Linked DNA regions of Homo sapiens: region 1 is linked to region 2. The links come from fine-mapping of genetic effects on gene expression. A gene starts in region 2. The other region holds a variant in brackets. All regions are shown on one strand. Distances are between the middles of the regions.

Region 1 (16,286 bases), 53 kb before region 2:
ATATTTCTGTCCTTGCTGCTAGGCTGTGGGCTTCCGGAGTGAAATACCTTGGTATTTTAGTGCCTCTGGAGTAGCTCTATGCATGGCTCATGGGAGGCCCTCAGTAATGGATGGGGGATAAATAGCAAGCTGGAGGTGAGTCTTGGGTTCACCTTGGCAAAGTAGCGGGCAGGTTGAGGAAAGCAGCCAGGCTTTCAAGGACAAGCAGGCTTATCCAAGGGCAGAAAAATGTCACATGCTGGGGCCCCATGGTGGACTGCAGGGAGTTAACACCTCCTGGAGTTGTTTGAGAATTAAAATAAATGATAGACCCATCTCAGATCAGGTCTGAGAAGGATGGAGGAGGCACCGAGCCATGGCCTTGCTGAGATGCATGAGTGTCAACGTCTCTTTGCTGTCGTCAATGACAGGATCTAGGCTCAGCAGGGTGAGCACCCTGGGAACTTTGCCCTCCCTGGGACTGGCTCCTACCACCTGACACTGTCAAAGCACAGTGGGTTCCTCCTGGGTTTCCTTGTGTTTGGCTTTTTGGCATCTGCCATTGATAGAAGGAGCACGCATCCCCATCTGTCTGTGCCTGCTGTCTACCCCTCTCCTCTGTTTCTGGCTGAGTTTCCAGCTTATGAGGTAGAGATGGTATGTTTTTTTCTTAAAAAACATCATGTTACATTTTAAAAACTTATGAATTTAGCAACTACCTAGTTTAAAGGTTTATTTCTAAGGTCTTTGAGTAGCGCAGTCTAACACATTGCCAAGAAAAAGAAGGTACTTCATAGACTCAGACTAATTGGCAATCTTTATGCTTCCTGCATTGAAAGTTCTTGTCCTCCAGAGGGGATTGAGCCTGATCTAACTTGTCTGCATCGAGTCCTTCTCTCAGGAGACTACATCTCTGGGAAGGCAGGGGCCGTGCCTGACTCACTTGTGTATTCCCCTGGTTTAACTTAGTGCCGGCTCAAAGAGGACACCAAGCTGGTCAAAGAGGTCATGTTCAGCCCTGAGTTGTAGTCTGGGATTCAGGCCGCCTTTGGAAGACGTTCCAAAGATCTCAGAAGGCCCTTGGGGGTGTTGGCATTGCATAACAGGCATGGGTTTGGATTCTGTGGAGGTTGTTTCCCAAGATGGCTGCTACAATCCTGGCCAGTCCCGATGCCCTTTTGACATGTGACTTTGTCTCTACTCCTATCCACAGGTAGAGTTCATTGCCCTTCCCCTCCAGACTGGGCTGGCTGGAGAAACCATGTCAAGAAAGAGGGACCCTAAGAATGAGCCTCCACAAGCAAAGAGAAGCCTTGGAAGATGAAAGACCATGAGTAGAGAGAGGCTCTGCGGAGGGCAGACATCTGAGAGAGGCCATCTGGGGTCTTCCAGAGGAGAGAACACGTGCAACATGCATGAAACTGGGCTGAGCATCCTCGCCGAGCCCTGCCCAGCCAACCCACAGAACTGCAAGTAAATGGGGCGGGTTTCACTTTAAGCCACCAAGTATTGGGCGAGTTTATTACACTGCAATAGGTCACAGATACAAACCAACCTAAATTCAAACTCCATTTCTACACCTACTAATACTGTGATGGTGAATACATTTTTTTTAGCCTCTCGCCTCATATGCAAAATGAGAATAATAATGCCCACCTAATAGAATTAGAACCTTGCCAGCCACAGCTCCCACTTGTAGAAACTTGCCAGCCACACCTCCCACTTGGAATTGCCCATAGCCCAGTTGCAGGGCTGGTCTTAGGTGGTGGAGAATATATTAAGTAGTTTTATCTCCCTACTCTTCCTTAGCTGAGGGGACCAGAAGTAGCTGCCTGACCCCAATGGCTCATGTGAGCGTGTTTAACTCACTCTTGAGATTATAAATGAAGAAGCCCAGAAATTGAAGTCAGGTAGTTGAGCCTTGGATTTTTCAGATCATGTAGAGCCGAGGCCAGTGTCAGAACCCCAATGAGCCAAAGTCACACGGGAACGGAAGCTAAGAGGGAGTTGGAACTCTGAGTGGACATCAAGGGGGTCCATAGAGCAGGTGTGCAGAGAGAAGCCTAGAGAGGCTGCCTGACTGCAGCCAGAGACTGGGAATGGAGAGAGTGTCCCAACTCAATTTCCTGCCTTTGGTTCTGAGAGATTCCCTTGTGCCCCATTTGCTCAAGCCTGTGTGCGTAGGAGTGGGTTGCTTCCTGCCAAGTCATCCCTAATGAAATGTGAAAATGCAAATGCCAGACACAAAGTGGATGTGCAGTTCTTCAAGGTACAGTAGTGTTTTGTTTTGTTTTTTAAGTAATGGATGAACGGAACATTTATCTACTTTTCTCTCAAAATCTATATTCTTTTTTCTCCATAGGTTTGATAACATTAACCTGATGCCTAGGGTCTCAGAAGAAACCAGTTTTGGGGGTCAGTGGGACTCAGAAACTAACCTCTTTCTAAACTTCACACACAAGCAAAAGGTGTTTTTCCCTTGGAGGCCAGAGCTCCGAGGAGTGGGGATGGGAGTTGTGGCCGCCTCTGCCATGAATGTACCCCTGCACTGCCCACTGGTGTTGGGGAAATCTAAGGTCCATACATAAGAAGCTTTGGTTCCTTGATGTTTTCTGTGAATGGATTACCCAGAATAGGATTTTTCCAGATTTGCAGGCTCAAATGAGACGCCTTACAGGTTGGCTTCAGAGCAAGAGTTCTCTGGAAAAGAAGGAATCATAATCCTTTGATAATATTTTCCTAACAGCCACTAGAGGAAGTTTTCAGAGAGTAATAAATCGTGCGTTCTCATTTATATAAAACCTTTTACTCCTAGCTTGGAACACTATCTCAACTTTTTACTAACTAGCAATTTTACTAACAAATTGACTAAATCATTTAGCTTCTCAGCCTCAGCTTTCTTATCCATAAAATCAAGATAGCAGTAGTTAACACCTCCTGGAGTTGTTTGAGACTTCAAATAAATGATATACCTAAGGCACTTTGAAGACTGCCTGGTGGGTAGCTCGCTGAGCCCAGGCCTCAGTGGGTGTTTGATGAATGCCTGCTTTCATTATTTCTGCACCAGTGCGATTTATCTGCCTCTCTTCTTGACGTTTGCTCCATTCCCCAGACCCAACATTCATCTCTTTCTTGGACTAAAGTTCAGTTTTACCTAGCCTCAAAAGTCAATTCTGCTTTCAAGTCCAGCCATAGATCCTGGGTTCTGTGACCCCAGGCAGTACCCTGCAGGGTCAGCTCCCCTATTGACCCCTCAGGGATACTGAGGCAGCCCCTCCCATCTGGCTCAACTCGGCTTTGAAGTTGAGACCCTGACACCCCTCAGCAGGCACTGTCCTTTGAGTTATCCTTCCAGGGGAGATGGTTGGCTATGCACAGTCATTCATTTCTTGCCAAAATCTTTTAAATTGTTTCTGGCCTGGGTTAAGGGGAAAAAGAAGTGAATGTGCTGGAAAAGAACCTTTTTTCATGCTCTGTATGAGTTCATTAGCTCTGTTCTTAAATCAAGTGAGATATCCAGTAAAGAAGGTCTTAGATAAAACATGAGGTGGTGAATCCTGCCTCCTGGGCCCCCTCCCTGGGACTTTCTCTGTAGCACACATGCCTCTTGGTGCCATACCAGTTTCCTAATATTTTTACACTCTCTGCTTCTTTTCCTCGATCAAAATGTTCTCAAGGAAGGCTTTTAGGGATTCATGTCTACTCAGTGGTAAAGGACCATTACTAACGTTACAGTAGTTAGTATTGCAATAGCGGATAAAGCTTAAAGTCAAAGGAATTAATCTTTAATTGTGAGAGTTTGAACATCGATGCCAAACTGATGTTGGATTGAGGGGAGGGTGGGGTGAGGGTGACAGAGTCTCACCATTAGTGAGATAATTAGTGCCTCATTTCTCATCATGGATGTTGACCACTGACTCTGCTCCTGGAGAAGCCTGCTTCAGAACTAACCAGCAAACACCAAGGGCCTACACTGTGCTCAGCCCACTGAAATGTGGCATGGGGTGAAGTTTGTGAGCTCCAACCTGCTAGCATTTCTTCTTTACGGTAAGCCACAGTTATTCATTTAACCTCATTTCATGCTGAATTTTAAGAGAATTAATTTTAAACAACTACACATACTGTTTTCAGGACACTCCTGTTCGGATAGGGTCATACTTGATCCCCTGTTTCCCCAAAGCTTTGACTTGGTATCTGATATGGTTTGGATTTGTGTCCCTGCCCAAGTCTCATGTTAAAGTGTAATCCCCAGTGTTGGAGGAGGGGCCTGATGGGAGGTGATTGGATCATGGAGGCAGAGTTCCTTCTTGCTGTTCTCATGATAGTGAGTGAGTTCTCAAGAGATCTAGTTGTTTAAATGTGTGTAGCACTTCCCCCTTAGCTCTCTTTCTTCTGCTCCAGCCATGTAAGATGTGCTGCTTCCCTTCTGCCATTACTGAAAGTTTCCCAAGGCCTCCCCAGTCATGCTTCCTGTACAGCCTGCAGAATCGTGAGCCAATTTGACCTCTTTTCTTTATAAATTACCCAGTTTCAGGTATTTCTTTACAGTAGTATGAGAACAGACTAATACAATATCTGATGCACAGGCTCCTGTCATAGCCTTTGTGACCCCACCATGGGTTACCACTAGGGTCAGCCTTGCCCCCAGCCTCTGAGGCTGGTTCTGTCTCCCAAGGGGGGATTTCATGATGTTAACTCAGGACCGCTTTCAGCTTCCTACTCTGAGCACAGAGCGACTGTGCTCTGCTGGGTCTTTGTGACTCAATCTCTGCAGGAATCCTTGTCATGTTCCCTTGAGCATGTTCCTGCCTGGCCTCTGGGAGCCCCTGTCCCTACCAGCTGGCACTTTCTATTGCCAGGTGCTCAGGATGCTGTCCTGTTTGCCGACATCTCCTTTGCATTTCCTCTCACCATGTGTCTGTCTGGTCTCTGAGCCCCAGCCACCTCTGCAGTGATTTATGTGAAAGTTGAGAGCACAACCTGCATCAGCCTGATCCTGCACACCCAGCTGGAAAGAACCTGTGTGTCGGTTGAGTTCCCTCCACCATTCTGTCCTATTGATACCACCCAGCCCCAGTGATGGCTGACAGCATTTGCAAAATAAGAAATTGCTGGCTGGTGAATAGTTTAGGAGACCTATTACAAATGAACAGAATCAAAGTAATTAAGATATAAGTATCTTGTCCATGAGAGATGTAAGAAATTAGTCTTCTGTATCTTTGCATCTAGTTTTTGCATGTCAATCAGTCATACTTTTTTATGTTCATTAAAAAACTTGGTCCATGTGGGAAGATTCAATTAATGTTTTTGAGTCATTCATACTTGGATTTGAATAAAGAAGTTGGAAGAGTCCTTAATATCTGGAAAATATTCAAATGTTTCCCTAAAGTTTTCAAAACTATTTTGCTCATGGATTGGGAGCTCACTCACAAATGGACCTCGGTGTTCACTTCCCATTGGTCTGCCTCCGCTAGTAGAGAAAATCGGGCTTGTGTGGCAGTAATTTGGCAAGTCAAGTCCTTCATTCTCACTTCCATGTTTGAAACATGGCTTCTCAGTTGTGCTGTGACTAAGACCCAGTTTGGGGAGTTTAATGGATTCTGGGCTTCATAGACAGGAATCCAATTCATCATTGAAAAGATGAAGTATACAATTGGGATGGATCAGGGAGAGAACTTTGATTACGTTCTATTTGAAATGTTTTTTTTTGTTTGTTTTTTGCTAAACTTGTTAAATAATAACCCTGCTGTTCCAGAGGAAGTGATACTTTACAAAAAGAAGATTCATCTCAAAAAAGTCAAATATAATTATACTTGAGGATTTGAAATTTCCTGATGGAAACAAATCTGTAGAGTAATTTTGGGAAATATGTGCATTTCTAGCTATAACCAGTGTTCCACTGGGTCTCTTAATGCAGGGGTCAAGACATCTGCAAAGTGTCTTCAGATAAGTCCTGGGATGGGTCTCCAGGGGGCTCTTGAGCAAGTCCACCCTGCACTGTGTGGCCCCAACATTTTCTCCCTCTTTTGCTCGGCAGTGGGGGCTCCCCTCCTGTGAAGCTCTCCAAGATGCCCTGCACTGATTCGGGTGCTCCGCAGCGAAGCCCCTTTTGCCAGGTGCCCCTGCCACTGCCCGGCTCCCCAGCTGCTTGGCTGCCATCTGCCTCCATTCCTGCTGCGGAGGCCTGGAATGCCCGGGATACTAGGGCCACTCTGCCTTCCATGCTGAAGAAGGAAGATGTCTCTGGTCCCTTTTGTCCCCAATATTTTACACATACAGAAGAATGTAAAGAATTATACGGTGGTTCACATAGCCACATCTAGATACATCGCAGCTGTTGGCCGTCAGCTCTCTTTCCTTTCCACATATCTGTGCAGCTACCCATCCATCCAGCTTATTGTTTTTAGACTTTTCAAAGTCAGCTGCAAACATCAGTGCCTTTGTTCCCACACATGTCATTAACTGGAGTCCAATATTTGTTGATGTTCTTTTGTGTTCCGTCAGCTGTACTGCCTTGAATGTTGATGTTTGGAGTTTTAAGAGAAAGAAGCTCATTCAGCTTCAACCATAACCCCTAAACCCCCGTTCCCACCTCCGTCTCTCCTCAGGAATCAGATGG[A/G]GGTGGTTCTGGGCCAGAGACAAATCTAAGGGAAAGAATTGCTGTTTCTCCTGCACGGCAGAGGAGCGGCTGCTGGGTAAGCAGCCCTTTCTGGCTGTCTCTCTCCAGGTGAGGTGAATCATCTCTCTGGAGGCTCCCTGAGCTCTCAGGTAAGCAGATTCTGAGCCCCTTCCCCACCGGCTTCAGACTCGAGGGTTCCCAGTGTCGCTGCAGCAGCTGCTCCTGCTGAGGTGTGCAGGGGAAGGGTTTTGAGAGGCTTCTCATCTGCAGAGCTGGTGTTAACAGGCAGACAAGCATTGCTCAGGATAATGCACAGGGGCTGGAATGGGAAGTGTCTGGCACTCAGAGGTGACCTGGAGGCCTTGAGGTGCACAGTTTGTCATCATCGTAATCAGAGCTGAGATGCACCAAGCACCTCCCAGCGCCAGACCCGGGCTGAGAGCTCACTGCGTGTGCCTAGCGTGCTCTTCATACCATCCTCGCTCTATCATTATCCCCTTTGCACAGATAAGACCTGTTGGTGACCATGATCTTGGCAGCTGTGATAAGAATATGTATAAACCCAGCCAGAGGAGCTGGTTAGGACAGATTTTTCTGGCAGAAAGTGGGGTTGGTGGTGTAAATTGTAGGTTTTCAGGTGCGGTGAAGCCAACAGATGAGACGATTGCCATTGTCACTCAGTTCCCGAGAGGAGGGTCACACTATGATGCTCAGGGCCCCATGCGGAAGCACCAGGGTTGGGCAGGTGGCAGAGAAGCTAGAGGAAACACAGGCAAGAGCCTCGGCCGAGGTTTCCGAGGGAAGAAACTGGGGAGATAGGATGAGCAGGCTTAGGACCGGCTAGTGTGAATAATTTCTGTTGGGTCTGGGGCATAGGGGCTGTTTCCAGTTGTCTGGCACCTGGCCCTGGGGTGATTACGGCAGGGGAATAGAGGCCCAGCATGGCAGAGCCTGCTAGAGGAGACAGGGTCTGCATGTGGGCTCTGGACTGTGTGGTTTGCACATGAAGGGCACACTCATGGGGGAGTCATTTGCTGTCTCTAGGACTTGACTAGCCCTGGGGGGAGCAGTCCCTCCAGTGTCAGTGAGGATCTAGGTGTCAAAATTTCAGAAACACGTGGTTAATACTGTGGGATGGGGCAGGAAGCACCTATCAGGTATATTTGAACATCTTCTCGCAGCCATGCAACCTTCAGCACCCTACGGCACCCACGTGGTTCCTCGTGAACTGTTAATCAGCACATTTCTGGCCATTTGGAGAATCTAAATGTGGAGTCCTTGAATGATACTCCAGAGCTTCATGGGGCCCAAGTGAGACTGTAAGGTCCTTCTTATGGCTCCCAGGGAAGTGGCCACTTTCCACTGCCTTTGGACTAGCCACCAGAGTCACTGTTGCTCTGCCCCTTGGCTTGCCTTGAAACGCTCTCTGAGATACTCGCACTTCTGGTGAGAAGGTGAGTGTGGTGTCCAGGTGCTCACTGTGAAGATGGGCAGGCATTATTTGGAAGAAGTGGAAGAAATGGGAACTTGGAAGTGACTGGGGAGGCCAGAAGAGGGGAGAGGGAAGGGGGTCCCAGGGTGGGAAGTCACTGTTGACAGCTTGAGGGTTCTGTGTCCATTCCAGTGCAACAGGGTGTGTGGGAGCGCCTCTCTTGTGACATTGAACAGGGAACGGGAGAGCATGGACTTGTTCTCTAGGCCTCTGCATTTCTTTGTCCTCTGCAGATAGGGCACAAGCTGTGTTGGCAAAAGCTGGTAAAACACTGCTAACAGGCAGAGAAACCATACATTCAACAATAAGTATATCTAGCAAGGCATTAAAAAATGGAGAGTAGGTTTTTGTGACTAAAAAAGTCTACCTAATGTTAAAATAATAGGCGGTGTTAGTCAAACTGGTAAAAAGAAAAATGAAGCAATCAGGCAAGTCTGCTGCTTGAATTCATACAGACCCAACAATTGACCATTGTTTGAACACTCAATGTCTTAGCTGTTCCTTGTTAAACACACTGTTGGCACAGCAAGCATTTGAGAGAAGAAAGCTTCAGTAATCTAGAGCCACCGCCAAACAGTAGAGCAGTAGAGCAGATTCCTAGGATGATTGAGCATGGGGCTGTTGACAGGCAGGCTGTGGGTGTTGGCGGGTAGAGGGAGGCATAGGCTGAGTGTCTTTCCACGCATTTAACACCCCAGCTCCAGTCTTGGCAGCTACTGTTCCATGAGCAGAATGGAGTTCAATGAAACTGCTTTTGCAAAGACTATGACAGTGAGAAAAATCTGACATAGAAAAATTATGACAATGAAAGAAATCCGACCTGACTCCACCTTGCTTCTAACCTCCAAGCTGTCCTTGTTTGTTTCTGGGCATAGGCCAAGCCAACTGTGGGAGGAATTTAGTTTAACTTTAAAGCAAAGATGATAACAGTCTCTTCTTGAAACTAACTACGTCCTGGCTCAGGGACCAAATATGTCTTTGCAAGACTAACAAATTAGCCACAAGATTAGAATTATGGTTCAGGAGCCTTGTAGCCAGAGGTCACAAGCTTTGTAACTTCCCCATTTGCTCCTATAGGTGACATCACCATTGCAAAATCTAAGATTGGTACTTGAGGTATTTTTCAGACTGCATTCCAATGAACAAGCTGGTGCCACCTGGACTGGTACCCCATACCATGAAACTGGCTCATCTGACCTTGCAATCCCACCCAGGAACTGACAGAGTGTAAGAAGACAGCTATGATTTTATCCCTAACCCAACCAATCAGCATTCCCCATTCCCTAGTCCCCTGCCTTGAGAAACCCTAGCCTCTGAATTCTCAGGGAGACTGATTTGAGTCATAAACTCCCATTTGCCACTTGGCTAGTCCTGTGATAATTAAACTCTTTCTCTACTGTAATACTGCTGTCTCAGAAGATTGGTTTTATCTGTGCAGCAGGCAGGATGAACCCATTGGGCAATTATAATAAAGCAAATGCCAAGGGGCAATTGGCCGCCATCAGTACCATCAGTATGGGCTTATCGGAAGCTGACAGTCACGAAGAGTGAGAGGGTAGGGGGATTTCATTTTAATAAGTTTTCGGATACACTTACTGTATTTAGAAAACAAAGAAAAGTTCACAGCAGGAATACTGTAATTACACTATCTGCCATTCTTGGGGGGATGCAAGGAAATCTTTAAAACAGCAATGCCACAGACACACAGCAGTTTTTTACCTTTTAAATATGAATTTATAATAATAAATCTCATATTTATTTTGGTACATATTTCTCCCAATTAAAAACAATATATAAAGCCTGATCCTAATTAGGAGTAAGTCAATGTCACTTTGACAAAACCACAAAAATATTGATTTATTGACTATTTTTAAAGAAATAAGCCTTATTCTGTACACATTTTATCTGTATTTACTGAATTCTTACTTGAATTTAAAACTTTTATAACAGAATGCAGACAAGAAATAACTTTTGTAATCTCAAAAGTGTTTAATGAACAGATTCTCAGAAATATTTATAATTAGCACCTTTTCTCTTCAGCAACATTAAAGCTAGTTGTTCATCCCCTTAAAATAGTTCCTTGATCCCCCACCTTTGTTAATACCATTAATCGGTTTATAACCAGCACAAAGAAAACTCAGCCTAATGCATCAAGATGGATTCTCCATTGGCAGATCTAAGTTAATGATGTGTAACTTAATGTTTTCTTTTTAAAAAATCAAACACTGTTGTGTTTAGTTTTGGTTGTAAATATAAGTTCTTGGCAAAATCTGTCATATGATAAAGTAGTTTTAGAAATCTGTATTAAAAAATTAAAGTAGGTAGAATACAGTGACCTCATCCCTCTGCACCTGTGCTTTGGTCCCCATTCACATAGAAGGAGGGATTGTTCTCTGCCATCTACACCCCTCTTCTCCCATCTATAACAGCCTGGATTACTTTGATATATTTTTTAAAAATTTTTAAAAAGATGGGGTCTCAGTATATTGCCCAGGCTAGTCCTGAACTCCTGGGCTCAAGCGATCCTCCTGCCTCAGCCTCCCAAAATGCTGGGATTACAGGTGTGAGCCACCATGCCCAATCAACCAGGCTTACTTTGGGATATTGTTTTTGGGCTTTTAGCTTAGGGCCACGTTTTGATTGGATTAAGCCCATTAGCATATGTGAAAGATTATATTTTCCAAGGATGACTGTTCTTCTAGAAGTTTCTTCTAGAATCTTGCCCCTCTTCCATCAAGAGATAGAGTCTATGTACCCTACCTTTGAATATGGGTGGGTTTTTGTGACTGTTTCAACCAATAGAGTAGGGCAGAAGAGACATTATGTGATTTCTGAGTTTAGACCACAGAAATGCCAAAAACTTACACCTTATTCTCCTGGGACACTGTATGCAAGCAGTCTCATGGCCCGGAGGCCTCCATATTGTGGGGAAGCCCAAACTGGCACAATTGGAGAGACCACATAGAGAGGCCTCAAGACTGCCTTAAGGAAAAAAAGATGGCCAGGTAGCTCCTAGCACCATCGACTCCTCTTCCCCACCACTGTTCTAGCCCCAACCACCATCTGACTGCAAATCCATGAGGGGCCCCAGGAAAAGTCACCTAGCTGAGCTTACTCAAATTCCTAACCCACAGAAACCATGGGAGATAAGTGATTTGTTATGTTGCAATAGATAACCAGAACAGCATGTCTCATCTCTGTGGCCACAGTGATTGTTGCAGGATAGACACATGACCTAATCCAGTCTAAATCAGTGCAAGTCTTAATATGTTTGCAAGGCATGCTAGACTATAGACATTCTCCTCTCCTCTGGGCTCAGTAAGGTGCTGTAGCCAACTGACTACAGTAAGGGGAGACAGCCTGAGAACCACTCTGGCACACAAAAGAAGAACAGAAAGGGATCATGATGACATCATTGATCCTTGAATCAAATCTTACCCGAAGCTACCATTTGACTTACTCAACACCCATGAAGCATCATTTATAGTCAAAAATGTTCAGAGTCTCAAGTCACTATACAGATACAGAATTCAATCTCTTGTTTGATACCCAAATCTTTCCTATTTTATTCCTATTTATTTCCTATTTTATTCCAGCCAGATGTTTTCAACCTTCAATGACAGACCTCACCACCTGAAGCAGGTGTATTCCAGCCCCAAGCAGCTTTGTTAAGCCAAAATCTGTCTCTCTGCAATAGTTGTCATGAGGTAGAGTGGAAAATATCTAAGAATGCTATGCATAAGAAGAGTATCTAGGTTTCAGCAAGTTTCTTAAAAAATTGCCTGATATTCAAATTGCCAAGATGGAGAAATATGGGCTGAATTTCATTTTAATCTGCTGAATTGACAATTGGTTGAATGCTTTAAAGCTAAAGAGCATTGATTCATTGATCAACCTAAATCAGCATCAGATAGGAGGAGCTGCTAGTCTTTGGTCTCCTGCTCCTGTCCATATGGAAACCAGAGACTTGGATAGGCCTTTGAGATCATGATAAATAAACCCATGAGTGGCACGAGGCTGGGAGGGACAACTATTAACGTTGGATGAGAAATTGAGCTTCCAGAATACTTTGATGCACTTTGCTAAACATTTACTGAATTAGACAAGATAAAATTTAAAAGAGATAAATATAAAATCCTGCTCTTTAGTCTTCTAACACTCAAGTGTATACATATGAGATAAGTCGAAAGTGACTGAGTTCAGAGGTAACACATGAGGAAAGATTTAGGAAATTTACTTGTCAAAAATCCCTGCCAGACAAAAGGATTACGCATCTTTCAAAAAACTTCTTGGGATCTTTGGTTTTATAACAGAAACAAAGTGTTCAAAATAAGGTGGGCAGTGCCTGCTTCCTCATGGGTCGACTCATCCTGGATTGCAGTGCTCACTTTATGGTGCCATGCATTAAGGAGAAATTGACAGGTCAGGGCATACTTAGAAGCAACTGGTGGAGGGTGAGAAAACTTTAAACCCGATCATAAGAGAAATGATAAGAGGATATGGATTCTTGCCTGGAAAGGGCTTGATGCAATATTGGGGCTACTGGAAAGTCTGATAAAGTCACTATTTTATCCTTTTGAGGAAAGCACTCTGTGGAAAGATTCCCAATTGCCTGCCAAGTCAGAACTTTAAAGCGAAAGTTTCTGGAATCTATCTGCCTTAATCTGCAGTTCTTAATCTTTGCAGAATTGGGAAATGCCATTGAGATGCTGCTGGAAGCTTCAGAACCATTCCCCAGAAAAATTACGGAAACTAATAATTTGCAAAACTTTCAGGTTTCTAGATTCCTCTAAGTTCAACAGATCCCTGATGAGAATTCCTGATGAGAATCCCTGCCTGGAAAAATGGGAGACTGAATGGATTAATCTTGCAAATTGTCATAGCATCATAGAGCACACAAACCCTCATTACATTATGACATTATATAACATTCCTTGAAATATCCACTCATTTCCCTCTGCCTATTTTCTTTTCTTCAAGGAAAGCAAGTATTATAAAACTTGTTGTTGTTAACAGTGCAAAGTTTTCTTTTGGAGGTTTAATTTTACCTTCTCACCTTCAGAACAATGCAAAGACCCTTTGAAGTTCCTTTCCATTTTCTTTATGTCTTTCTTTAACACTCTTTTCACTTCCTTCTCTCTTTCTACTCTCTTCTCTCCCATCTCTTCTTCCTCAACAAGGATAGGTAGCAGGGATGAGGCGGCAAAGGGTGAGGGAGTGTGACCAGAGGGAAGTTGGGACCAGCCAGGCGCTCTTCATGTTTCTTCCCTGACTTCTGGCCCTTGCTTCTTCTCTGCATACCACACCCACCCCCAAGAATTCTGCAGATTGATACGTTCAGATAGAAACTTCAGTGCAATAGCCACAGTGACTTCATCAAGAGGAACATTTGAGTATTGAGAGGTGGTGTTTTCTTGTGTTGGTCTTTTTATGACAAGATTCTTAGCTTTGATAAAATAGGCTATGAGTTCAGTGAAGATTATACATTAACTTGAATTGTAACTCAGTTTAATCACAGTTGACCCTTGAACAACATGGGTTTGAACTACACGGGTCCACTTATATGCAGATTTTTTTCCATCTTTCCTGCCACTCTTGAGACAGCAAGACCAACCCCTCCTCTTCCTCAGCCTACTCAACATGAAGAAGACTAAGATGAAGTCCTTGATGATGATCCACTTTTTTCCACTTAATGAATAGTAAATAAAGTTTCTCTTCCTTATGATTTTCTTAATAATATTTTCTTTTCTCTGGCTTACTTTATGGTAAGAATAAAGAATGTAATACATATAACATACAAAATACATGTGAATTGACTGTTTTTGTCATCAGTAAGGCTTCCAGTCAACAATAGACTATTAGTAAAGTTTTTGCAGAGTCAGAAGTTGTACATGGATTTTTGACTGCATGCCTGTAAGCTCTGTGTCGTTCAAGGGTCTACTGCAATTGTGAGTCTTGTTCATAAACAAATGGTTTATGAATTTTTGGTAGATAGAAGCCTCATGCTATATTACCTTTGTGCCTTTCATAGAAAATTGTAACATTGGCCTATTTTACTGTCTCTGTTTTATGCAAACTACTGGTGTGTGCTACTCACATAAAAAATGATAATACCAGATGATTAGCACCTGGATCACTAAATTTTAGTTAATGATATTAGGAATTGGTGGATCACCAGCTAGGTGTGTAACCTTGGGCAGTCCCTAAGCCTCTCCAAGTCTCAGTTTTACATCTGTAAAATGGGAAGCATAACGTATGTTGAAGTTTACTGAGGGTTAAATGAAATGATTCATGTAAAGCACTTAGTCCATATCCAGCACATACTAAAAAAAAAAAGTTAGTTATTGTTACCTTAATGAATGTTACCTTTGCATACATCTTTGTGAGTCTCAAAAAGTTTTAGCAGGAAGCAAAATTTGCATTAGGTCATATTGTATTTGCAGATGCCCATCCCCTTCTTCTCATTGATGCTCCCCTGGAACTTTCTGTTACAATGGAAAGGGAATACAAGTTCCTTGCAAGAAGTAAAACCTCATGGAGATCCTCCAAAATTCCGATTCCCGTGAATATCTTACAGAAAGAAAATAGAAATGGCTGACCGAGTTGAGGCAGTTTATTTATTGCCAACTTCTGGATTTTCTTCACATTCTGTTCACTAGGATGAGCATGTTCCAGTTTGTATGGTTGTTTTAAATACTGATCAGACTTCATTTCATTTATTAATGTCAGGTGCAACTAAGCTGCCTTCAGCAAATAAAGTGCTCATTCCTTCCAGACCCTCCTCTTAAGCTTAATATATTCCATATTCCCGGTTTATTTTCTCGCTGACATGAGTGTGCCCAGTTTTGCTGCCAGGCAAGAACTGAAGGTAAGAGAAGGCTGCAGACAGTGGCTGGTATGAGACGGCCATGCTTCGCTTGGTTGAGGGTTTATCTGATTATAATGCATGGTGTGTGCAGACATTTCAAGGGTTGCAACAGAAAATCCATCACTGTTGTTAGTATGAAGGGGAATCTGTAAAAACATCATTTGCCTAAAAAGAGAGAGAGCAAGCTCTGGCAAGGGTTGGGGTGGGGAATGTGCTTTTTCTTTCTGTGTTTGTAACCTGTAGAAACACCAGGGCCTCTTGGATGGGCTCAAAGAGAGCCCTGTCTGGCCTGTGGCACTTTGGAAGAAAACCCACACAGAGAAACGTACAGAGGAAACTATTTGGGAGCGGGAACTGGGTGTGTTTCAGACGTTAAGTCTGCAGAGAAAAATCTGCAGAGTTTTTTCTTTTTTCTTTTTTTTTTAAAGAAAAACAATCCCCTGAAAATGAACTTTTAGAGAGTTCCTTTATGCAGGAAACATGTCCATAAGGGAAAAAAAGAAACAATCAAGAGCAATGAAGATAGTAATACCCACCTCCCCATACTAGGAACAAAAATGAAGACAGCAGTTGAAAAACTGAGAAATTCACTACAGCTCAAATGGAGGCTACTGTATGCTGGGCAGAAGCCGAAAGATAATTGTCCTCCATGCTGATAAACAATTTTCTTTCTTCCCTGTATGTGTAAGGAACCATTCTGCGTGTTCTCATTTGGTTGTTCCTGAGTACATGACGTCAATGGGTAATGACAGTGACCACTGTTCTGCACATGTTCTGCTTCAGGTCTCTCTCTTCTCTCCTTTCATTTTGTCTTTTACTGCATGGACACTCACATCTTCTAAGTGAACAAAGAATAAAATCGATCCAGCAAAACAGGAGGGCGAGCTCAGGTAACATTCCAGGCCCTCAAATCCTGGAGTGGCCCCCCCCAGGGCTATCATGCCTTCTCTGTTCCTTACATTGCTTGCCTCACACAGAGAGGCTAAGGGCCTGGAAGCTGGTTCTGCCTGGCTGGGTTTGGATCCTTGTATTAGTCCGTTCTCAGGCTGCTAATAAAGACGTACCAGAGTCTGGGTAATTTATAAAGGAAAGAGGTTTAATTGACTCACATGTCAGCATAGCTGGTGAGGCCTCAGGAAACTTACAACCATGGCAGAAAAGGAAGCAAATACATCCTTCTTCACAAGATGGCAGGAAGGAGAAGAATGGGTGCCTGGTGAAAGGGGAAGCCCCTTATGAAACCATCAGCTCTTGTGAGAACTTTCTATCATGAGAATAGCATGGAGGAAACTGTCCCCATGATTTAATTACCTCCCACAAGGTCCCTT
Region 2 (16,286 bases):
AGCAATGGAAGATTCAGGGTTAAGCAATTAAGAGGAGACTTCACAAGAGACCCAAGCTAAATAATAGACCAGTTCGTTTATGAGAGAGAACCAATTATAAGACATAGCTATGACGAGCCCTTCTGAGGTCAGAACAAACTTCAAACACTGACTTCACACCTACCCCTGCAAAAGAGCTCAAATTTAATTGAATCAGACTGTGGAACAGTTTCTATCAGGGCATTCTTGTAAACAATTGAGCAATCAGCAAGCAGTTAGTGGAGCCTATCAGCTGGCTGTGACAAGGGAAAGAAATAGTCAAAGAAAGCCCTGCTCAAACAAATCTCATCCCACCTGGCTGAACACGTTTCTAATTTTGCACTCTTTGAGAAGCAACATCAGAGGTCTCACACTACTGGGGAAATAGACATCCCTAGAATGGTCTAGCCAAGTAGCAAAATAAATAAACAAGCAAACAAAAACAACAAGGCTCAGAGAGGGTATTGGTATCCAGCGCTACCATAAAATTTTATGTTCGGTTATCAACAAAAAGTTGTGAGGCAAAGAAACAGAAAAAGCATAATCTACACAGGATCAAAAGCAGGTAACCAAATGTGCCTGTGAAAGAGACCAGATGTGGGGTTAACAGAGCTATATAGGAGTAATGTTTCTATATCTCACCGGAATTAAGTTAGTATAGGTCTGAAGTAAATTCTGATAAATTAAGACATATATGGTAAACCCTTAGAGTAACTACTAGAAAATAAGTAAAAAGCATAGTGAAAGAAATTTATGTATACAAAAGAAATCAATAATGGAGGAGCAGAGGAACAAAAAGAACATGAGACAGAAAACAAAAAGCAAACTATCAGATGTAAACACAACTCTATCAATATAACACTAAATGTTAGATTTGATTGGATAACAATCAAATCAAGAGGCTGAAATCATCAGACTGGATAAAGATACAAAATCCAACTACATGCTGTCAACAAGAGACACATTTGAGATCAAAAGATATAAATAGGTTGGAAGTAAACGAATGGAAAAAGATATACCATGCAAACAGCAACCTTGTAGTGACTTTATAATATCAAACAAAACAGACTTCAAAACAAACCAAAAAGTTACTAGAAATAGAGAGGAATCTTTTATAATGATAAAAGGGTCAATTCATCTAGAGAAAATAACAATTTAAAACATATATGTACTTAACAATTGGAACTCCAAAATCCCATGCAGTGAAAACAAACAGAATTGAGGGGATATATTAGTCTGTTCTCACACTGCTGATAAAGACATACCTGAGACAGGGTAATTTATAAAGAAAAAAAATTTGATGGACTCATGTTTCTATGCTGCTGGGCAGGCTTCAAAATCATGATGGAAGGCAAGGGAGGAGCAAAGGCACATCTTACATCGGGGCAGGCAAGAGTCGCAATGAGAGCCAAGTGAAAGAGGAAATCCATTATAAAACCATCAGATCTCATGAGACTTATTTACTACCACTCAAAGAGTATGGGGGAAACCACCCCCATGATTCAATTATTTCCCACTGGGTCCCTCCCAAAACACATGGGAATTATGGGAGCTACAATTCAAGATGAGATTTGGGTGGGAACAAAGCCAAACCATATCAGGGAGAAATAGAAAATTCAACAATAATAGTTTGAAGCTTTCATACTAACTTTCTGTAATGAATGAAACAAGTAGGCAGAAGACAAACAAGGAAATAGACGTGATCAACATATAAACCAACTCCAGGTAGACCTAGCAGACATCTATGGAAAACTCCACCCAGTAACAATAGAATAGGCTTTTTTTTTCAAGTGCACATGGAACCTTCTTAAGGATTGACCATATAAGATACCATAAACAGCCTTCATTAAATTAAAAATGATTAATGCAAATTCTTTTTTATGACCATAATGAAAAAAATTAAGAATCAATAACAACAGAAAGATGTTTGGGGGATTCACAAAGGTGTAACAATAAAACAACATATCTTAAATAACCTATGAGTCAAAGAAGAAAACTATGAGTCAAAGGGAAATTAGAAAGTACTTTAAAATGAATGAAAATGAAGACACAACACACCAAAATTTGTGGGATGAAATCAAAGCAGTGCTTAGAGGAAAATATATAGCTGTACATTCCCATAATAATAAAGAAGAAATATCTCAAACTAAAAACCTAACCTCCCACCTTAAGATGCTGGAAAAAGAGCACCAAACTAAAACAGCAAGCAGAAGCAAAGAATCATAAAGATTAGAGTGAAAATTAGTAAACTAAAGAATAGAAAAACAATGGAGAAAATCAGTCAAACCAAAAGTTGGTTCTTTGAACAGATTTTTTTAAAATGACAAACCTCTAGCTAGGGAAGTATATGTATTTCAAGAAAATGTAATCAACTTTCAATGTACAATCTATGGGTTTTTTTAATGCATTCAGAGTTTTCTGGATAAGATATAGTATAGACTGTGAAGCTGAAGTTCATAACATAAATCATAACTGCCTGATATAGTAGCATTATAACTAGTTTAAACAATCACTGCGTATGCATCTGGGCTCTTAATGGGATTCTTGGAAGTTAGCAAGAATGAGATAGAGGACAATTCAGAACCCAGTGGACTGCTGAGCCAGAACAACTTGGAGGTATTTGCCATCCCTGAGATCCTCTGATTTTATAAATATCAGCAAAAGGTTCAATTACCCCAAATCTTAATGTCTCTTGTTTCATAAATCTGTTTTATTAAGATGTCAGGAAATACAGCAACAAATAATAATAAAACTTGTTTTTAAATCTCAGGGATACCCAATCCCTGGGTATTGTTTAACGTGGCCAATGTTGGTGGATTTATCACATAAGTGAATATTTGGGTATACAATGTGGCCACCAGGCACATCTTTAGGAAATACAGATAACAGATAATCAGCTTGGAGAAAGGCTAGAAGTTAGAAGATCACTAGTGGTCTTTTCTGAGCATTTCAGGGACTATTTGGCCAGTTGCTTCACCACAGCTAACTGCATCACTCTTACTTGATTGTCCTGTTTGGGAGGAAAATATGATTCATACCTGTCAACTTCTGCAACAGAGATAAGGACTTTTTCTTCTATGTGTCCCTAGCAGCTTGCACTGGTCTGGCACCCACAATAAGGGTTTCCAGGCCTAACAGCAATAACTGTAATTCTAGAGTGCCTATGATGTGCCAGCCAGCGGTCATGTATCTTTGACCCTTCCAGAGCTAGCACGGAGCTATGTGCCTCATCATACATCTTCATCCTCTTATCGTCATCACAAAAACCTGAATGCTTGCTTGATTGTGGGAACAAGCCCTCCTTGAACTCTAGCAAGGTAGTTAAAAGATAGCCCGGGATGATTCCTACCTGTGTAACCTTGGGCAAGTTATTTAATCTCTCTCTGCCTCAGTTTCTTTTTCTGTAAAATGGGGTCAATGATAAAACCTATCTCCCAGTTTATTAAAAGATTTAGTGAGTTGATGCTTGCCAAGCATTTAGAACAACGCCTGGCAGATAAGAAACGCTATGTGTCTCTTAAATAAATAAAATTAGTCATTGAGTTAAATCTCCCTTTTACTATGTGAAAAAAGATGAGCTTGCTCCAAACTTCACAGTCTTTTCTGCCAATGGGCATGTGCTTCTACCAGAGGGAAAAAGGATAATGGACCTTGAATTTCCTGATATCCCCATGGAGGCCAAAGCCTTCTGCTCATGAGCCTGTGTTCACCCCTATTTGGGATGTTTTCTCCCAAGCACTGGCTTGGGAGCAGCCCCAAAGTTTCCTTCTCCCGGCAAGCCATGCGTTTTGCGGACTCAGATATTTGATGAGTATTTTGCCAAAGCAGAAACATCCCAGTGAAAACTAATGACGAAGACAGTTCTGCCATACTCCGTTGCCTCCTCTAACTGGAGAAGACAACAAACAGCACACACAGCGTCTCTCTCAGACCCACCTATGTGGGTCTGAGCTTTCACACAGCTTTCATAGAACTCCCTACAGTGTCCACAGGCCCCAAGACACCACTGCCCAGGGCGCCCCTGACCCACAACCTCCTAACACAGTGGCACGCCATTTTCGTTTCTGCTGGTCAATGTGACTGCTTTAGTTCCTCCAGTGGGATCCAACTGACCTTCGATATTCTTTATACTCTGGGGTACATTTGCTGTAAGGGTGTGAACAGAAGCTCAGTAAAGCCCAGATAATACTCAAAGCATGCTCTGCTAAATTCCATGCTCCAAGGAGTGCCAGATGTAGCAAGAAAAAAAAAAAAGAATGCCAGGTTAAATTTGAACTTCGGATGAACACAAATAACTTTTTAGTATATGTTCCATACAGTATTTGGGAGATATCCATACTAAATTTTTTTTTTGCTGTTTATCTGAAATTCACATTTAACTGGGCAGCTTGTATTTTATCTGGCAACCCCACATGCTGGAGAAGCCTTACAAGGTTAGTTAGTATTTGGTGGTGGGGTAGGGGGGGAATGTCCCTCTCTACAAATGATTTTTTACCAGCAGGCCAATGGTAGGATTGTGAATGAGACAGCCCAGAAGCAACTGCAGAGGGTCATGCAGAACCTCTGTATGGACAGCTTTGCTCTGTGCCATCCTGGGGCAGAACCAAAATCTCACCTACATAACGGAGGTGATCTTTACTTCTGTTTATTTACTTGTCCTGAAGAACTCTAGGATTTCAAACGTACTTGAATTCATCATGAATCCTCCACAATGGCCACTTTCAGGAGGGAATTCAGTGTATGGAGTTTTCTTTGACTCCAAAGAATTGAGCTTAAATAAAGTGACATTCACAAAAACATGCTTATGTATTCATGCATACGCCTTTGTATATTCTCTCTTATACCCACTCTGGCTAAGGCCAGTGTTTCCTCATGATATGGTTTGGCTCTGGGTCCTCACCCAAATCTCACGTAGAATCATAATCCTCAATGTTGGATGAGGGGCCTGGTGGGAGGTGATTGGATTATGGTGGTGGACTTCCCCCTTATTGTTCTTGTGACAGTGAGTGAGTTTTCACAAGATCTGCTTGTTTGAAAGTGTGTAACACTTCCCTCTTCGCTCTCTCTCTCTTGCTGGCCATGTGAAAATGTAACTACTTCCCCTTTGATTTCTGCAATGATTGTAAGTTTCCTGAGGCCTCCCCAGAAGCAGAAGCTTGTGCGTCCTGCAGAACTGTGAGCTAATTAAACCTCTTTTCTTTATAAGTTATCCAGTCACAGGTTTGTCTTTATAGCAGTGTGATAACAGACTAATACACCTCAGTAATATTAATAGTAGGCTAGTATTTAAGGCTGTTGTAATATCTCTGTTAAAATAAGGACAGCATTCTGAATAATTGAGTTTGATCACATGATATGTGATGTTTAGATGCCTAATGCTGGCTGCAGTTAGTACTCAAAGTTTACCTGTACTATACACATGGTAAAAGACAGGTGGCTTTGTGCAGGGTGGAAGGAAGATAGGAAAGAGGAAAGAAGAAAAAGCAAGGAAAAATATACAGAAGCGGAAAGAGAAAAAGTAAAATAGAGAAGAGTATGCCCAGTGTCTAATTTCTCACCAGGTTAGATACATTTTCCTTTAACCATTAAGCTTTTAGTCTTTTTAGACTGAAGGTTCAAAAATCTTTGAAGAAATAAAATCAATTTAATCAAATAATCAGTTGTTTGGGAGCATAAATAAATAAGAAATTAAAAGCACAATTGAATGCAAACAGCCGTCCCAGAGTGTGATATAGCAATTCTCTCTCTATGGTTGATACATTTATCTATAAATTAATTAGATTTTGTCTCCAAAAGTGTTTAAGAATATTATATATTTATGTATGCATCCTTGAAAATGATTATGGAAACAATGATCCATCCTGAAGCAAGAATTTTTTTGTTTTGTTTTTTCTTACTCCTCGCCATCCTCTTTGCTGTTTATCTGAAATTCATGTTTAACTGGGCAGCCTGTACTCCTGTAAAATAGTGACCCAAACAACAAAAATACCTGCCCTTGTTGGGCTTATCCTCAATCTTCCCTGTGTTGCTCGCATTCTGATACAATCAGCTGTATTTGACTACCAAGCATCAGAAAAAAATTCTTTTTTTTTTTTTTCTGATGCTGGTTTATGCAGAGCTCGCTTCATGGCCTGGTGACCAGTGCATTCATGCAGAACCTCCTGATCAGAAGGGTCTTGCTGTTACCAGCCTGTGAGTCTTAATAATTTTGTACATGCAATCCCTCCTTTTCATTTTCTCCTGAACTCTGCAAAGTATGTAGCCAGTCCCAGGTTTATGCATTATAATATAACAAAAATATCAAAAATAATAATTGCAGTTCCATAGAGAACTTAGAACTTACCTCCTAAGTGGTTTAAATCTTTTGATATCTGGGACCCCCAAACCCCTAGAAAGTCAGAAGATAATTTTTTCTTTAATGGGAACAATGAAGTCTCAAGGTATTAGGTCCGTGTCCAGCTAAAAGTCTGCTGGGGCTAAAATCCACCTTTCCTAAACCTCACATCACATTTCTCAAACTTAATTGCTTCATCCTTGCACTTTCCCAGGTCTTTCTGTTTTCTCTCCTTTGTCACAGCTGAGGCTGTCACTAAAACTGTGGCCCTCTCAGCTCTGTCTTTATCATTCTTTTCAACTCAGTCTGGATCTTTATCACTTTGAAGGCATAGGTGGCACTTCACAGACAAGCACATTTCAGTCATCAAGTTTTGTATGTTTCCCATGATTGTGACATATTTCTACCTCATATCCTAGTTAATAGAACACAGGAAGAAAACAGGCTGCACAGGTTATTTGCATGAAGGGATGAAGTGGCAGGAGAAATGAAGTCTTCCTAACTCTGGCCTCCTGCTGCTACACAAGCCAGGCCAATGATGTGGCAAGTCCAAGGGGCACATGGCTTTTCAGTGTCATTGTTTGAGGAGGCCATGAGTGGTTTAGCTGGTGGCCTCTGCTTCTTTTTCTTTTGAGTGCTTCTGAATACATGACTGTGCTCTGAATACAGAGCTACCACTGCGGGGTAAACCAAGCCACAGCTGTCCTCTTCCAAGGTTAGGGTCGCTGCTCAGCAGGAGCTGATGTGCTACAAGGAATGATGATCTTCTACTGGTAAGATAATTTCCAAATCTTTAAAGGTGAATTTAGAGTGAGGGGTCCCCTTACCTGTGGTGTTTAATCCATCCTATCTTAATATCTAAAACTTTATAATGCCTTCTTGTCTGTTTGTGGTGTTGTTGTTGTTGTGTGTGTGTGTGCGTGTGTGTGTGTGTGTGTGTGTGTGTGTGTTTAAAGGTCTTGGCACAGATGCCGTGCTCAAAACATGTTAACTGGATTCAAATCTATATTTTGATTAATCAGAAATACATACCTGCATAAACACTGCTCTTGGAAAAGTTTAGAAAAGAGTTTAGCCATCTGTTTTCTGGTTTTCCAGTTTGACTTTCTTGTTTGTAGTTCCGCTGAATGGTATCATTCTCATCCCTTGGCAATGGTTTTGTAGAGTTATAGTTTCTGGTAGGGGAAGGGCTTCGGTTCTAAAGTTAGTGATCAGATTAAACGCAGGTGAGATGCAACACCAGCATATCATAATTATCTTATTTTCTGCTTTGCAGTCCCTAATATCCAGTTAGGTAAATCACAAGGATTCTTATAATAACACCTATGTTCTCCCCCAAATAAAATGGAGTTATCTTCCTTTTTTAAAATAACAAAATCCACAACTTTATCATAGAGAAACAAGCCTACTGAGCAAGATCACTATAATCATTTAAATATAAAAATACTACAAAGGCAAATACTTCACCCTCCAGCCCTAAATTTACCTTTTATTTTTTCTGAAGCTCTAAACTTTCCCTCTTCATTTTCACACATTGAAAGCAGTCCCGAAATTTTCAGGAACAATGGCAAGTTTTCAAACGTTTCCTAGAAAGTGCGTAACCCTATCTTTCTCTTTGATCTACTGTACTTACATCGGCAGATCAGTGTGACACTTGCAAAGCCAGGTATTTTTATCCCAGTTCATTCAAAGGTGGACCAGAAATAACACAGCTCCTGGGCTTGAGGGGTGGTGGGGGTGGTGGGGGAAAATGTGGCAGGAGAAGCTACGAGAATCATAGGGCAAGCAAGGCGGTCCTTGAGGAAGAAAGCTTTCTAAATAACACACTGCTCCATTCTTTCTATCCCTCTTCAAAGCTGTTTCGTTCCTAACCCATTTTTCATTAAGTTTAACTCCTTTGGAAAAGTCTCGTCACTTTCCTAGGGAAAGTCTCCAGGGGAGCGAGCTTTCAAGATCTGCTGCGGAGTGTGTCCTGCCAGTGCGTGGAAGGCCGTTTGTTTACAAAACTTGGTGAATACCCAGATGGCGCTTCCCTGTGCCCTGCAGCTGCTCAACAAGCAAGGAGACTTGCAGGCACCCACAGAACTCATTCTGTGAAGCCCTTTCTTCTCAGAAGAGTCTTCACTGCTATTGTGACGTCCTGCTTGCCCCTCCTGTTTTATTCCAGAGGCACAACGTTAACACAAAATGTTGGAGATCATGACAGCGTTGGGCTCCAAAAACAGGATTGTTTGTTGTTTTGAAGCCAGTCCCCAAAATGACTTGAACTTCTAAAGAAGAAGCTGGCATCCTTTCTATCATTTACACAATCTGAGGTTCAGTGTGTGAGGATAGGAATGGGGATGGGGTGGGTCCACTTCTATCCATTAGGGAACTCCAGTAATATTGTGGATTCAAGAATATGCCAATTTTTCCAGGTGGTAGCTTATTTAACTATTGTTAGGGATAACTCAAAGAGCTTTGTATTGCACCTTTACAAAGTTATGGAAGGGCTACTAAATAACATGTATGGGATTAGTAAATTGCAGAAATGTTTGCACAGGCATCAAGATGCCAAGTAGTAGCATCTCCATGGTGACCTCTCTCCAGTAATGCTTGGTACACAAGCATAGCTGCAATGCAAATTCCCTAGACCCCTCTTCTAACTAGATGGCCAGCCACTCATCGCCAGTGTTTCTTACGGTGAGTGAAAAGAGAGTCTCAAGAAGTCTGTGTATTAATTGTTACTGCATAGCGAATGACCCAAAATGCAGAAGCTTAAACAACAGTCATCTTTTATTATTTCTCACGGTGTCTGAGAGTCAGGAATCCAGGTAGGGAACAGCAGGAGTGGCATGTCTCTGCCCCATGACTTCTGGGGTCTTCGAGGGAAGACTCAAAGGCAGCGTGTTGAAATCCTTGGGGGGGGTCATCACTCTCATATCTGCTAGTTGATGCTGGCTGCTGGTTGGGCCTGAGGCCTTGAGTCAGAACACTGACATGTGAGTTCTTGATGTGGCCTGGGCTTCCTCACAACATGGTGACCCTCCAGAGAAAGAGAGAGAGCCTGGAAGAGCTGTGTGCCTTTCCCTGCCCAGCTTTGGTAGGCTTGCAGCATTGAGTCCACTGAGCTCCACTGGCTAAGTCAGTTATAAAGGACTTCTCTGGCTCAAGGGGAGGGAATGTAGATACCACCTTTCTTTGGAGATGAGTCCAATAATATTAAGAGTATGTGGGATGGAAAATGCATTGGTTCAGCCACCTTTGGAAGATAGAATCCGCCATCGGTACCTTCCCCAAATACACAGGCTTCCTTGTGGAACTGGGGGATATATTATAAACTCTAAATAGCAAAGGCACTTCCTGAATAAATACTAATTGGCTGTCTGTGAGACATGCAGTGACTCCAGGTCTCCTGTGGGGTGGGACAGCTCAGGAAGTCCAAGGATTCAGTGAAAGCCCTAGAAGAGCTTGCCAACTGGAAGAGAGGGAAGCTGATGGCTGGACTCCTCTCCCAGTTATGCTTTTGGGTAAACATCTGGAAAGCACAAGGCTTAGCAAGTCAAGAGCCAGCTACAGCAACACCATAAAAACACCCTGCAGCTGAGTGCACTGGGTGTTTTTGTAAGCGGCATCCCACCTGGTCCACCAGACAGTGAGCTAACTGAGGTGTGGATTTTCATAGAGATTCAATGGTAAACAAGAAAGATGCATCTCCCACATCCAAGGAATATGTGTTTGGTTGGAAGAGTTGGACAATAAACGAAACAGAATAAACAAAGTGACAAACAAACACGCTAGGTAGTGATGCGCATTGTGGCAATCCCAGAACAGGTGATGGTGGTGACACACAGTGCCCACACCCAGCACAGCAGGGTACACTGTCATCAGTAATCGCCTCTCCAGGAAACCAGCGGCACTCATCAGACTCAGTTACTCATGGTCTGTGAGTGAAAGAATTAAAGTCCCTGGAGAGACCCATCAGGAGCACCAATGACCAGCAGATTGCACAGGTCACCTCAGCAGCAAAGCCAAGGCTACATCTTGGCATTCCTGGCTGCAGCCCATTGCTCTCCCCATCCTGCACATGACTCCAGACAGTGGCAGCCTATTCAGCATCTCAGGGCTGTCAGGAGTGGCATCTAGGGAGGACCAGGTGCTCTCTCCATCTGTGGCTTGGAATGTGTGCTCAGAGTCCCCTGAGAACAGACAAACCCGTGAAGAACCAACTGAGAAATATAATCTTCCTGTCCATTCAGATCAGGAAATAAATTAAAACATCTTTCTTTACATAGTAGATTTGAACATGAAAAGCTGATTGTAAATACAATCTTTGTGGATTAAACTGTATTTTAAAAGCTCTCTAAAGTCAGGATTGGCACAATGTTGATAGCCATTGGACAAAGGGTGCGTGAGGGCTCATTAGACTATTCTCTTTTGCTTGGTGTGTGCTTGAAATTTTCTCAAATAAAAAGTAAGTAAAGAGGTAGATAAAATAGCTTTCCTCTGGCAGTACATTTGTCCCTCTTTCCCTCTCTTTCTCTCTTAAAATGAGAATGATTACTTCCAACAAATAGTTTTTGTAAAACTAAGTCTTGCAAAAAATGACTTATAGTTGTTTCTGTACATTGGGTTTTTCTGAAGCCAAGCACAGCATACTGAAGTGATTTGCAGTATTAGCCTCGCCTTTAATTCCTGTGATAGTTAAGTAATCATGAGTAGGCATGTTTCTACCTACTGCAAATAAATTTGTGGGGCATCAATAGGAGATGTGGGATTGATGTCATGATGAGAGAGACAAGGGATGAACCTGGAGGTTGTGAGGCTGAGGTTCGCCCCCTTCTCTCTTCCAGCTGGTCTGGGACCCCTGGTCACATCTCATTACCTCTCAGGGTCTCGGTTTTCTCCTAAACCAGCTCTGGCTCATTTCAAGAATCCTTTCCTTCCAGCACTGTAGAGAGTTCTGGGGGTCAAAACATGTTGTAATTCTGAAATCACCAGGGTCGCGTGAGACGAGGACAGGGATGAGAGATTAAAACTCCCCGTCTCCAGGAATAAGAAAGCAATACAGTCCCTCAAGGCCATTAACGATTTTCATGATCCGTAGATTTCTTACCACTTAATTCTGTGCTCTCCCTTCTTTAGGCTAATATTTTAAACATTATGAAAAGGAAACCAATGAAAAGATGAGTAATAGCTTCTGGCTGTTGAGCACAGTTTCACAATATTTTTGAATTTCTCAGATAACACTGCATATTAATGTCATTTTCTTCACTGGGAAGAAAGTCAGCAGACCTTCAGCCAAACCATGACTACTTGGTAACCTGCTGAAAATTCTATGTTTGAACTCCTGCCCCAGCTCCACCTTTCACCTTGACTGGTAGGGCGGTCTCTCAGTGGTCTCTCTTCTCATCCTCTGCCAACAATGTCAACTATGGTATCTCTGGAAGACAGGAGGAAAAAGACCAAATGCTCACAGTTTGATGTGCTTATCATTCTTTCAGATAATGGGATTGTGAGTTCTTATTTATCTTAAATTTTCTGCATTTTAACTTTCTTCTTAGTGCTTTCTACATGCTCCATGTTTTCTTCAATGAGCATGCATTACTTTATACTCAAGAAAAGAGCAATGCACACTGTTTTTTAAAGCCGCTATTGCTACTCCTCAGACTAAATCCTTCATTGGCCCTCCACTGACATAGCATAAAATCCAACGCATTGGTTTGGCTCCTCCACCCTCAATGCCTGGCTGGCTACCCTCCTAATCTCACCTTCGTCACCTCTTCCCTGACCTCTGTCCCTTCCCCTTCCCATCCTCCTTCCCACCTGTGCTCACCCACACCTGCCATACCTCAGACACCAAGGAGCCCTCCGTCTGAATCTACCCCACCCACAGAGGTTTCCCTGACCACTCCCACACTTTCTTTAGGAGCCATTTCAAGCCTGGCCTCTGCTGGTCCCCAGGGAGCCTCCCCTGCTTCTCCAGGGTTCTGGGGCACCTCGCCTCCCTGACCATACTCCTAGAACAGGCCACAAACAGCAGCATGTGGTGTGTTCTCACAGCTGTTCTTCATTAGACCGGAAGTGCCCTGAGGACAGGCTCAGTGCCATTACTTCCGTTAATTTTCTTTTTTCTTTTTTTTTTTTTTTGGTTCTGGTTTTTTCTCTTTGACCCCAGCAAAATTATTCATTGAATGTTTCCTTGAGTTTTAAGAGGCCTACACAGCAATTACACATCACTAGAGTCTTTTTTATTTCCCAAGAAAAGCCACTTAGAAATAAAAGTATGAAGAGTGTTACATGCCGAGGACTTTCCAAAACACACAGACTTTCTAATGGTGTTGCCTAAAGCGTGTTGCTCCTGCTTTGCCTGTGCTAGGCTCCTGCTCTGCCTGGAATGCCTTCCTTTCCTTGTCTACTGGCAAACTCCTGGTCACCCTTCCAAACTCGGTTTTGACACCCATGCTGCCCTCCCCTGCAGCTCCTTGAGCTAGGATCTAGAGACGTCCCTCTGGAAGGTGCCTCAGGGTACCCTTTCCTCTCCAGGTGCCGTCGTTTGCATATCTATTTCCCCCATAATTCCCTAGAGACGCTGACCAGCCCCTAGAGGTTCTAGTTTAGTGCTTGTGGAAGGAAGGAATTTCATGTTAGCAGTCCACATGCCAGGGAGTGCTTGGTGGATATGCAGACAGGAAGTTTAATAACAGGGAGATGCAGGGACCTCAGGAGAGCTTTGCATTTGTTCTCTGCACAGGGCACCCGGCTGGGGATGAGTGGGATCTACCACCCCGGGTCTGTCCTCTAGGATCCCCCAGGGCAGGGCTGCCTGCCTAAGGCATGACCCTGATCCACGCCGGTGTCATGGGGGCTAACAGAGTCAGCCAGCATCCATGCAGTGCCCGCCGGCCATCCTTCCCACAGTAAGCCCCAGATTCTCTATTATTTTTGAATTCTTCTTCCCATCATTCGTCCAGGGTCTTGCCAGTTCTGAGACCAAAGAGTTGCAAAGAATCACCCTTTAGGAATGTAAAATGATTCTTGTTCCAACAAGGCTCCACTTAATCATACACTCTACAAATTCAGGGAGCTCATTTGGGTAAAATACAGTTTTTCCTTTTCATACGTTTGCTGCTTTCTCCAAACAAACTCGAGGAAAGACTGCAACATCAGCACTTTGACAATTTGGAACTGAAATAGAGAGTCTAGAGTCTGGGATTTCATGTCTCCTCTGATTGAAAAAATAAAAATTCTTTGAAGTGCATAAACTTGTGCTTGGCAGTGTTTTCATCTGACATTGTTTAATTTTTCACAGACCAAGCTAAAGCAAGAAAAATTATTCTCCCACCCTTCACCAGCAAGATTCTCTGCCTTCTCAGCCTTTCACACAGCCAGGGCTGGGGACCTCCTGAAAAGTGGTGTTGGCCCTTCCATCAGGCAGACCTCAGACCAGAATCCCTGCCTCCTCTTCATCTTTCTACCCGTCCTGCCCCCACCCAAGTGACACACGCCACAGAAGGCAACCTGGAAATTGCCTTGTGCACTGTGGGGCGATGGGAAGTGGGGGCAGGCTTGGGTCAGGTGCTGTCACCTCTGCACCCATCACACACATCTTCCTCCCTAATGCCGGGGTCTCAGCATGGGTGGGAGATGTCAGCATCTCGGGGAGGAGGACTGCTGTGACCCACAGGGAGACACATGCACCTGCCCCCACCGTGGCTTCTGCCCTCCTCCCCAGCAGGGATGGTGATGGCCGGTTGAAGTGTTGACTGAGCTTGGAGCCAGGTGCACGGTGGCTGCTAGGCGCCTTCACTCCATCCTGGAACAGCAGGAGAAAGTGCCTCATGAAGTTCGGAAGAAATAAAGGGAACCTAAGCATGTTGCAGGGCTGCTTTATCTCACAAAAAGCACATCAACAGCATCTGCTCTTCAACAGGACAACAGAACCAGGCCTCCTGACTGCCCCTCCCTGCGCTCCGGGCCTGCAGAAGGCGCCTGATGTGACTTCGCATTATTTTGAAGCTGGAAAGGCAGACATTTTAAGCCCTAAAGAGGTTTTGCCTTCTGAGGTAGGTATGAGGATATCTTCCAATCTCCCTTTGGTCCCGGGGGGATGGCCAAACCTTGCATGCAGCGAAATCACCCAAATAATGAAGCTTCGGGCCGAGGCGCCGTGTCCCATGGTGTGGACTGGGCATTTCCCAGGACCGTTCCCTCCTGGAATTAGGCTGCCCATGCCAGGAAACTTCTTCTCACTCCCAGGAGCTCAGGAGCTGAGGAGACCCGCAGGGACATCTGGCTGGTGTCCTCCCCACGACTCTGGAGGAAAGAATAGAATACCAAAAGGCGCTGAACATCACCACACCCCCTGGGGCCATGACATCCTCGGTGAACCGTAGGACTGGGGGACTGAGGACGGGTGATTCCAGAGCGTCTTGCATCGTCGCGTTTGGAGGACGGTGATCCTCAGTGACCACCAATCACGCACGCCGGGTGGGCGTGGGAGGGATGTTCCCAGCCTTAGCCATTGAGGAAAAGCTCAGCCCCGGGGCAGGGCAGGGAGGTCAGGAAGGGAAGACCTGAGCGGGAGGGGAAGGGGCAGGGAGAGCGGCTGGACTGTGAGCAGCTCCACGAGGGTGTGGGCTAGGATGCAGGTAGGAGCTCCTGGGAGAGCAACCCTGGGGCCAGGCTGGGGCTGCGTGTGGACCCCAGGAGAAGGCCCTTCGGGAGCAGCCGCAGCTATGCTGCGAGGTGTGCTTTCCTAAACTCAGAGGCTCTTGGTGAAGTGTGTTTCGGGCAGAGCCCAATCTGTCACGGGCTCTGGGAGCTCCAGGCACAAGTGTGGGGACGTCCCTAGGGTCACTGCAGCCAAGGTGGCATCAAGGCAGCAATGAGGGTAAGGCAGGGAAGCAGGAGATGTAGGGGTTTATCCTGGCAGCCCAGCACAGTAGGCAGCTTGTGAAATGGCTTGGATGAACCCACCTTGGCATTCACGGCTGTGCTATGCCCTCCCCTTGAGTGTGAACCTGTGACTTGCTCCTAACCAACAGGATGTGGCAAAGGTGGTGGCATGTCACTTCCATGATGAGGATATACAAGACTGTGACTGCTGTCTTGCCAGCAATCTCTCCTGCCTTCTCCACTTGGTCTCAAGAAGCCATGGTGGAGAGTCCCATGTGGCAAGGACCTGAATCCTGCCCACAGCCACTTGAGCTGTGTGGACCCTCACTCAGTCGAGCCTTTCCCAGACACCTTGGCCCTGGCTGATAACCAGATTGCAGCCTGTGACAGACCCTGAAGACAAGGCTCCCAAGTAAGGTGTGCGTGGATTCCTGACTCACAGCAACTATGAAATAGTAAATGTGTGTTTTAAATCACTATCTTGTGATTACAGAAGCAGATAACTAATACAAGTATAATAGTATCTTGTAGCATGTTTTAAGACATGTTAAAAAAATTGTCTAGGGAGATGTAATCAGAGGGTGCTATATGCTATTACTGGCCATTGTAACGCTAGGGGACTTCATTGTATAACCATGACATTAAAAGGAAGTGCAGTTTATTCTGTAGTCACATGTTGATGAGGCTACAAAAGGCTGTTTATTTGAGAAGTTGCTTGTGAATTCTTTATTTCTCAAGACTGTCTCTCTCACTCTTTGCTCAGAACCACCTCACTCTTCCTGAGTCTCTCTCCCATTGCCTCCTACCTGAGCACGGCTTTCCTGCCCTCCTCGTTTGATCAGGAACGCAGTTAGACCGTGTGCCTGTCTTTTTGTTTAGCTTATGCAGGGCATGTTGACTCCCACTGGCTGCTTCATTGCATCCAGTGATCAAGTACTGCTCCCGGTCCCCTACCTCCACCCATGTCCAGGTCTGGGTTTGGAGATATCATATCCCAAGTGGAACCAGGATCTTGGAGCCCTCATGTGTCCAGAGGAGGAATTAGACATGGTGTATG

What was found. PIP is the estimated chance that this variant, and not a neighbour inherited with it, causes the effect.
Region 1: its variant is fine-mapped to the expression of LINC02529 in tibial nerve (GTEx, PIP above 0.99).

What each region holds. Positions count from the first base shown.
Region 1 is chr6:159,426,943-159,443,228 of GRCh38, reverse strand. No RefSeq gene overlaps it. Among named protein-coding and RNA genes, the nearest start is that of LINC02529, 52 kb to the right of the region's middle. The variant A/G (reference allele first, on the strand shown) is at 6,599.
Region 2 is chr6:159,373,853-159,390,138 of GRCh38, reverse strand. LINC02529 (long intergenic non-protein coding RNA 2529) reads right to left here and starts at 6,608. Exons shown (of 3, transcript NR_125873.1): 1 at 6,362-6,608. It overlaps LOC105378084 (a long non-coding RNA gene), which reads left to right and starts at 6,812. Exons shown (of 3, transcript XR_943176.1): 1 at 6,812-7,125; 2 at 14,265-14,397; 3 at 14,591-14,808.